Homo sapiens: one gene and its partner. The protein of the gene in region 2 purifies or fractionates together with the protein of the main gene of each other region. This does not show direct contact. Each region holds a gene or a part of one and is shown on either strand. Other genes may lie near its edges.

Region 1 (4,237 bases), on a different chromosome or scaffold from region 2:
CCTCGCTGAGCGGCTGCCCGAGGAGGAGCTCTAGGCCGACGCCCACCGCAGGCCTTACAGTCTTCTCTGGACGCTCCCTTGCAGATGCACCGTGGCCTGGCGGCGAGCCCCCGGTCACCTTCCTCCGCACGGAAGAGGGGCCGGACGCCACCTTCCCCAGGACCATTCCCCTGATCCAACAGTTGCTAAACGCCACGGAGCTCACGCAGGACCCGGCCGCCTACTCCCAGCTGGTGGCCGTGCTGGTCTACACCGCCGAGCGGGCCAAGTTCGCCACCGGGGTAGAGCGGCAGGACTGGATGGAGCTGTTCATTGACACCTTTAAGCTGGTGCACAGGGACATCGTGGGGGACCCCGAGACCGCGCTGGCCCTCTGCTAAAGCCCGGGCACCCGCCCAGCCGGGCTGGGCCCTCCCTGCCACACTAGCTTCCCAGGGCTGCCCCCGACAGGCTGGCTCTCAGTGGAGGCCAGAGATCTGGAATCGGGGTCAGCGGGGCTACAGTCCTTCCAGGGGCTCTGGGGCAGCTCCCAGCCTCTTCCCATGCTGGTGGCCACCGTGTCCCTTGCTGCGGCTGCATCTTCCAGTCTCTCCTCCGTCTTCCTGTGGCCGCTCTCTTTATAAGAACCCTGGTCATTGAATTTAAGGCCCACCCCAAGTCCAGAATGACCTCGCAAGACCCTTAACTCACTCCCGTCTGCAGAGTCCTTCTTTGCTGCATCAGGTCACCCTCACAGGCTCCAGGGTTTGGGTGTGGAAGTCTTTGGAGGCCCTTACTTAGCGGCCCAGCTGGGCTGCCGTGCGTCTGGGATGGGGCTGAGGGAGGGTGCTGCCCAGGTGCTGGAGGATGTTCCAGCACCAGGTTCCAGCGGAGCCTCGGAAACAGGCCCCAGAGGCTGGTGAGCCTCGCTGGGTGTGGGCACTAATCCCGTGCATGGTGACTCGTGGGCGCTCACGGCCCACCTGGTGGCAGGTGAAGGCTTCCGGTTGGGCAGCAGATAGTCCTGGGGGAAGCTGGCAGTCCTGGCACCATGACGTATCTGGGCTGGTGTCATGCACAGTAGGGCGAATGGCCACAGCTGCCTGCCAGCAGCCCTGATCCCGGGGTGTCTGCACCCTTCCAGCCCAACCTCTGGGTCTCCAAAAGCACAGTCGGGGGAGCATCCACCAGGCACAACCTCTGCGGTCCTCAGAGGACTGAGCAGAGAATCCCAGGGTCCACAATGTTGGGGAGCGGCAGGGATCACCATCCAAAGGGAGCGGCCCCCACGGCGAGCTGACCCCGACGTTCTGACTGCAGGAGCCCTCATCCAGGCTGGGCTCCTGCCGGGCACGGCTGTGACCATTTCTCAGGGCCAGGTTCTCGTCCCCACACCCACTGCACAGGGCAGGCCAGGCTGGTCTTCCCACTGTGGGGATGAAGGATCCTCCACAGGAGGAGGAGAGCAGAGTCCACAGACATCCCAACAGCCTCAGCCTCCCTGTGCCTGGCCGGCCCCCACAGCTTCCCCGTCTCCTCCAGGCCCCACAGACACTGATGAATGGACAGAGACCCCCAAAACCAGCTGCCCCTTGCATGTCTGTCTCCATATGTTTGGTGACAGCAGTGAAAATGTTATTAGTTTTGAGGGGGTTTGGGAAGCCCAGCGGTACCTGAGGAGTTTCTGGACATTTAAGCCGGTTCCTAGGTGTGGCCTTAACAGGGAGGCTGCCCTTCCTTTCACTGAATGAGCTGCGTCACTCATAAGCTCACTGAGGGAACCCCATCTGCCAGCTCGTGCGTGCTCAGACGGCGTCCATGTCTCAAGCGTTCTGTGAAGGCTGCGGTGCAGCGTGAGGTCACCCTGCTGTGTTCAGAGCTTTGCTCACTGCCTGCGGGGCTGGACCGTTGCACCTCCAGGGCCCCCAGAAACCGAGTTTCGGGTCAGGGTCCTCTGTGTGCATTCCTGGGGGTCCATGTACCAGCTGTGACGACGTCCAGGGGTTGGGCTGAGAAGCAGACACCCTTGGGGAAACTGGCTCTGTCCCTCCCCTCCCCCATCCCAGGAGCTGAGGTCTTGGTGAGGCCACAGGGCCAGGTCCACGCAAGGACTGTCCGTGTCCTGTCCTGTGGTCTCTGGCCCCACGTGACACCCACACGTGTGGTAGGCAGCCTGGCCTGGGTTGTGGCTATGGCCAGGCCCCCAAGCTGTCCCCGATGCCCAGGGCTGGTGACCACCCAGGCAGGTGGGGGCCCCACTTGGTAACAGAGTCATAGGGCAGAACCCACCTGGGCTGCCACAGAAGGTCTGGCTGCCCCTGTGCCCACTGCTCCCCACCATGGCCAATCAGAAGAGTCAGGGGCTCCTGGTCTTTCCGGGAGGGACGTGGCCCAGCCAGCTCTAGGTGTTCTGAGCAGCTCTGGGACCCAGCGATTGAGGGGTCAGGCTGGGGGTGTCAGAGCCAGGGTCCTCCTTAAGTACCTCCCACACTACACAGACAGTGGCCCTTTTGTGGGCAGCAAATTCTTGAGCCATGAAAGGATGCTTTGGGCCCCTTCCCTCCCAGGAGGGCAGCCTGTGCAGGGATGGTGCTCAGCAGGTGGACAGGGCCTGGGGCCTGTGTCAGGGTCTCAGGCCTGGGAGCACCAGCAGAGGAGATGGCGGCTCCCAGCAGTGCCGCCTGAAAGTGTCTTGGGCTAAGGACCCACACCCAGGGCTGCCCTGCAGAAACGCCCCCGCAGAGCCCAGTGGTCTGTGAGGTTGCAGGCAGGGTGCGAATGGAAGGGCACAGGTGCGGGGCTGGCACCTGCCCGGTCCTGCCCACCTCCCCTCCGCCCAGCCCGCACCTGCGTCTCCCCACAGAGCTGTCCGTGGCACAGTGCACGCAGCGGCCCGTGGACATCGTCTTCCTGCTGGACGGCTCCGAGCGGCTGGGTGAGCAGAACTTCCACAAGGCCCGGCGCTTCGTGGAGCAGGTGGCGCGGCGGCTGACGCTGGCCCGGAGGGACGACGACCCTCTCAACGCACGCGTGGCGCTGCTGCAGTTTGGTGGCCCCGGCGAGCAGCAGGTGGCCTTCCCGCTGAGCCACAACCTCACGGCCATCCACGAGGCGCTGGAGACCACACAATACCTGAACTCCTTCTCGCACGTGGGCGCAGGCGTGGTGCACGCCATCAATGCCATCGTGCGCAGCCCGCGTGGCGGGGCCCGGAGGCACGCAGAGCTGTCCTTCGTGTTCCTCACGGACGGCGTCACGGGCAACGACAGTCTGCACGAGTCGGCGCACTCCATGCGCAAGCAGAACGTGGTACCCACCGTGCTGGCCTTGGGCAGCGACGTGGACATGGACGTGCTCACCACGCTCAGCCTGGGTGACCGCGCCGCCGTGTTCCACGAGAAGGACTATGACAGCCTGGCGCAACCCGGCTTCTTCGACCGCTTCATCCGCTGGATCTGCTAGCGCCGCCGCCCGGGCCCCGCAGTCGAGGGTCGTGAGCCCACCCCGTCCATGGTGCTAAGCGGGCCCGGGTCCCACACGGCCAGCACCGCTGCTCACTCGGACGACGCCCTGGGCCTGCACCTCTCCAGCTCCTCCCACGGGGTCCCCGTAGCCCCGGCCCCCGCCCAGCCCCAGGTCTCCCCAGGCCCTCCGCAGGCTGCCCGGCCTCCCTCCCCCTGCAGCCATCCCAAGGCTCCTGACCTACCTGGCCCCTGAGCTCTGGAGCAAGCCCTGACCCAATAAAGGCTTTGAACCCATTGCGTGCCTGCTTGCGAGCTTCTGTGCGCAGGAGAGACCTCAAAGGTGTCTTGTGGCCAGGAGGGAAACACTGCAGCTGTCGCTCGCCCACCAGGGTCAATGGCTCCCCCGGGCCCAGCCCTGACCTCCTAGGACATCAACTGCAGGTGCTGGCTGACCCCGCCTGTGCAGACCCCACAGCCTTGATCAGCAAACTCTCCCTCCAGCCCCAGCCAGGCCCAAAGTGCTCTAAGAAGTGTCACCATGGCTGAGGGTCTTCTGTGGGTGGACGCATGATTAACACTAGACGGGGAGACAGCAGGTGCTGAGCCTGTTGTGTTCTGTGTGGAGATCTCAGTGAGTTTTTGCTGTTCAGACCCCAGGGTCCTTCAGGCTCAGCTCAGGAGCCCCACAGTGAACCAGAGGCTCCACAGGCAGGTGCTGACCTGACAGGAGTGGGCTTGGTGGCCATCACAGGGCACCACAGACACAGCTTGAACAACTACCAGTATCGGCCACA
Region 2 (3,500 bases):
GGTTTTCAGCCTTCTGTAGTGTAACAGAAGGAATGTGTTCAGAATTGTGTTCAGAGCTGAATTAGAGCATAAAGTGCTGAAACTTGGTCAATCTGAAGAAAATAGATGGAAAATGCATAAAGGTGTACATTTCCTGTTGCATGAGATGCCTGCCACAATCTGCCTGGACCGATCATAGTGGCCACTTTTCCTGGAAATATGGCAGGAAAGTAACACAGGGAACCTAGTTAGATCCCTTCTTTTTTTTTTTTTTTATTTTGTTCAGCTTTGCCCTTTTATTTGACACCCTAAACTATTTCAAGGCATAGATTTTTATAAAATGTGCCTTTCCATGTTATATGTTGGTTTAGAATATCAGTAGCTTTGTTTTCTATTTGCATAACTCCAACTAAGGAGTATGGCTAGCAGCTGTTGAAGTTTTTATGACTCCCTTAGAGAATCTCATCAGTGTTTCCCAAAGTGTGACCTGGACACTCACATCAGAGTCCCCACGGATGGTTAAGGGGACAGCTCCCTCAGTCCCATCTCAGACCTGCTGAATTATGCTCTCTGAGGCTGGACCCAGGATCTGCATTTAAGAAGCCTCAAGGTGATTCTTAGACAGGATTGCCCCATAAAATACTGGATAGCCAGTTAAATTTGTCCCAAACATCACATGGGGCTTGGTTATACTAAAAAATTATCCATTATTTATCTGAAACTTAAATTTGACTGAGTGTTTTGTGTTTTTCACTTCCTAAATCTGTCAGCCCTATTCTTGGGTGCAGTAGAGTTTAGGAACCACTGCTTCAAATACCTCCAAGAACACCAGTCCCATTCATAGACCACATGGACCAGGGAAACTAGTTGAGTAGTGAGAGTTCTTTATATATCCTGGATGCAAGTCCTTTATCAGATATGTAATTGTCAAATATTTTCTTTAACTTTATGCATTATTGATTGTCACAATTTCATGATGGTATACATTGAAGCAAAAGAGTTTTTCATTTTGATGAAATCCAATTTATTTTTTGTTCTTGTTGCTAGTAATTTTAGTGTCATACCTAAGAATCCATTGTCAATTTCAAAGCCATGAAGATTTACTTCATGAAATTTTCTTCTGAGAGTTCTACAGTTTTATCTATTACATTTAGGTATTTGATCTATGTTGAGTAAATTTTTGTATATGGCATGAGGCAGGGATCCATATTCATTCTTTTGCACATGGTTATCCATTTGTCCCTTCACCATTTGTTAAAAAGACTTTCGTTTCCCTCGTAGAATTGTCTTGGCACCATTGTAAAAAGCCAGTTGCCCATAAATGTAAGGATTTATTTCTGAACTCTCTATTTTATTTGATTGATCTATATGTCTATCCTTATGCCAGTACTATACCGTCTTGATGACTGTAGCTTTGTATTTAAGAAGTATGAGTCCTTCAATTTTGTTATTCTTTTTCGAGTTTGTCTCAGCTATTCTGGGTCCCTTACTTTTTCCATATGAATTTTAGAATTAGCTTGTCAAGTTCCACAAATAAAGAAAACGGCAGCTGGGATTTTGATAGGAATTGCATTGAGTCTGTAGATCAACTGGGAGAATATTTCCGTGTTAACAATATGAAGTCTTCTGATTCGTAATCATGGAATGTCTTTTTATTATTTAGATCTTCTTTAGTTCTTTGAATGATGTTTTGTCATTTTCAGTATACAAGTCTTGCATTTATTTTGTTAAATATACTCCTAAGTATTTTACTCTTTTGATGCTATGGTACATGGAACTATTTCCTTAGTTCTATTTTCAGATTGTTCATTGCTAAATGAATAAGAATACAATTGATTTTTGTATATTGATCCTGTATCCTGCAACCTTGCTGAACCCTTTTTATCAGTTCTAATAGTACTTTTTCCTTTGTGTGTGTATATTCCTTAGGATCTTCTACATACAAGACCATGTCACATGCAAGTAGAGATAGTGTTATATGTTCCTTTCAAACCTGGATACCATTTATTTCTTCTTCATGTCCAACTACCCTTGCTGGATCATCAAGTACAATGTTGAATAGAACTGTTGAGTGCAGTTTCTTGATTTGTTCCTGATCTTAGAGGGAAAGCATTCAGTCCGTCACTGCTAAGTATGATGTTAATTGTGGGTTTTTCACAGATGGCCTTTACTGGGTTGAGGAAGGTCCCTTTTAGTCCTATTTTGTTGAGTATTTTTATCATAAAAGGGTATTGGATTTTGTCAAATGGTTTGTCCGTGTCTATTAAGATGAACATGTGACTTTTGCCTGTTAATATGGTACGTTACTTTGATTGGTTTTCACATGTTAAACCAAACTTGCAACCCTGGGATAATCCTGGGACCCATTTGGTCATGCTGTATAATTCCTTTTATAAATTGCTGGATTCTCTTGCTAGTATTTGCTTGAAGATTTCCACATCTATATTAATAAGTGATATTGGTCTGCAGTTTTCTTATAATGTTTTTGGTTTTGTATCAAAATAATATTGGCTTCATAAAATCAGCTGGGATGTGTTCCCTCCTCCTCTTTTTTTTTGGAAGTTTGTGAAAGATTCGTGTTAACAATTTTTAAACATTTGGCAGAAACCCCTAGTGAAGCCATCTGGTTCTAGGCTTTTCTTTATGGAAATTTTTTTTATTACTAATTAAACTTCTTTTCTTGTTATTTATTTACTTTCTATTTCTTCTTGAGTCAATTTTGGTAGTTTGTACCTTCCTATCAATTTGTCCATTTCATCTAGGTTATCTAATTTGTTGCCATACAATTGTTCATAGTATTATCATATAATCTTTTTTACTTTCATAAGGTCAGTAGGAGTGACCCCTCTTTCATTCTTGACTTTAATAGTTTGAGTTTACTTTTTTTTAATTCATCAGTTTAGGCAAATAATTGTCAATTTTGTTGATCTTTTCAGAGGACTGACTTTTGGTTTTGTTGATTTTTCTCTATTGTTTTTCTATTCTCTAGTTCATTTATTTGTACTGTAACCTTTATTATTTTCTTCCTCCTGTTTGCTTTGGGTTTAATTTTCTCTTTATCTAGTTTCTTAAGATGGATGGGAGGATTATTATTTGAGATATTCTATTTTACTAGAGACATTTGCAGCTGTAACTATATCTCCAAGTACTATGTTAAGTGTATCGCATAAGTTTTGGTATGCTGTGTTTTCATTCATCTCAAAATATTTTCTAATTTCCCTTGCAATTTCTTCTTTGACCCATTGGTTAGGAGTGTATTGTTTAATTCCACATTTCTGAATTTCCCAAGTTTCCTTTGGTTATTGATTTTTAATTTCAAACCATTGAGGTTGGAGAACATACCTTGTGTGATTTCAATCCTTTTAAGTATACTGACACTTAATTTATGACCTATATGGTCTTTATGGTCTAAAAAATGGTATTTCTTAGAGAATGTTCTATGCACACTTGAAAGTGTGTATTTGGCTATTGTTGGGTGGAATGTTCTATAGATGTCTGCTAGGTCTGATTATTTTAAGATA

The links. Proteins that work in one complex are often made in the same cells at the same time.
Region 1: the proteins of COLGALT2 (region 2) and COL6A2 purify together in Homo sapiens (affinity purification with mass spectrometry; 2 studies listed by BioGRID and IntAct, with this or other methods). This does not show direct contact.

The regions. Positions count from the first base shown.
Region 1 is NC_000021.9:46,129,112-46,133,348, forward strand, and holds the end of COL6A2 (collagen alpha-2(VI) chain isoform 2C2 precursor), read left to right. Parts: exon of another isoform or gene 1-84; coding exon of another isoform or gene 85-380; exon of another isoform or gene 381-690; intron 691-2,842; coding exon 2,843-3,441; 3' UTR 3,442-3,737; downstream 3,738-4,237. UniProt on the Homo sapiens protein: Collagen VI acts as a cell-binding protein.
Region 2 is NC_000001.11:183,947,229-183,950,728, reverse strand, and holds part of COLGALT2 (procollagen galactosyltransferase 2), read left to right. Parts: intron 1-3,500. UniProt on the Homo sapiens protein: Beta-galactosyltransferase that transfers beta-galactose to hydroxylysine residues of collagen.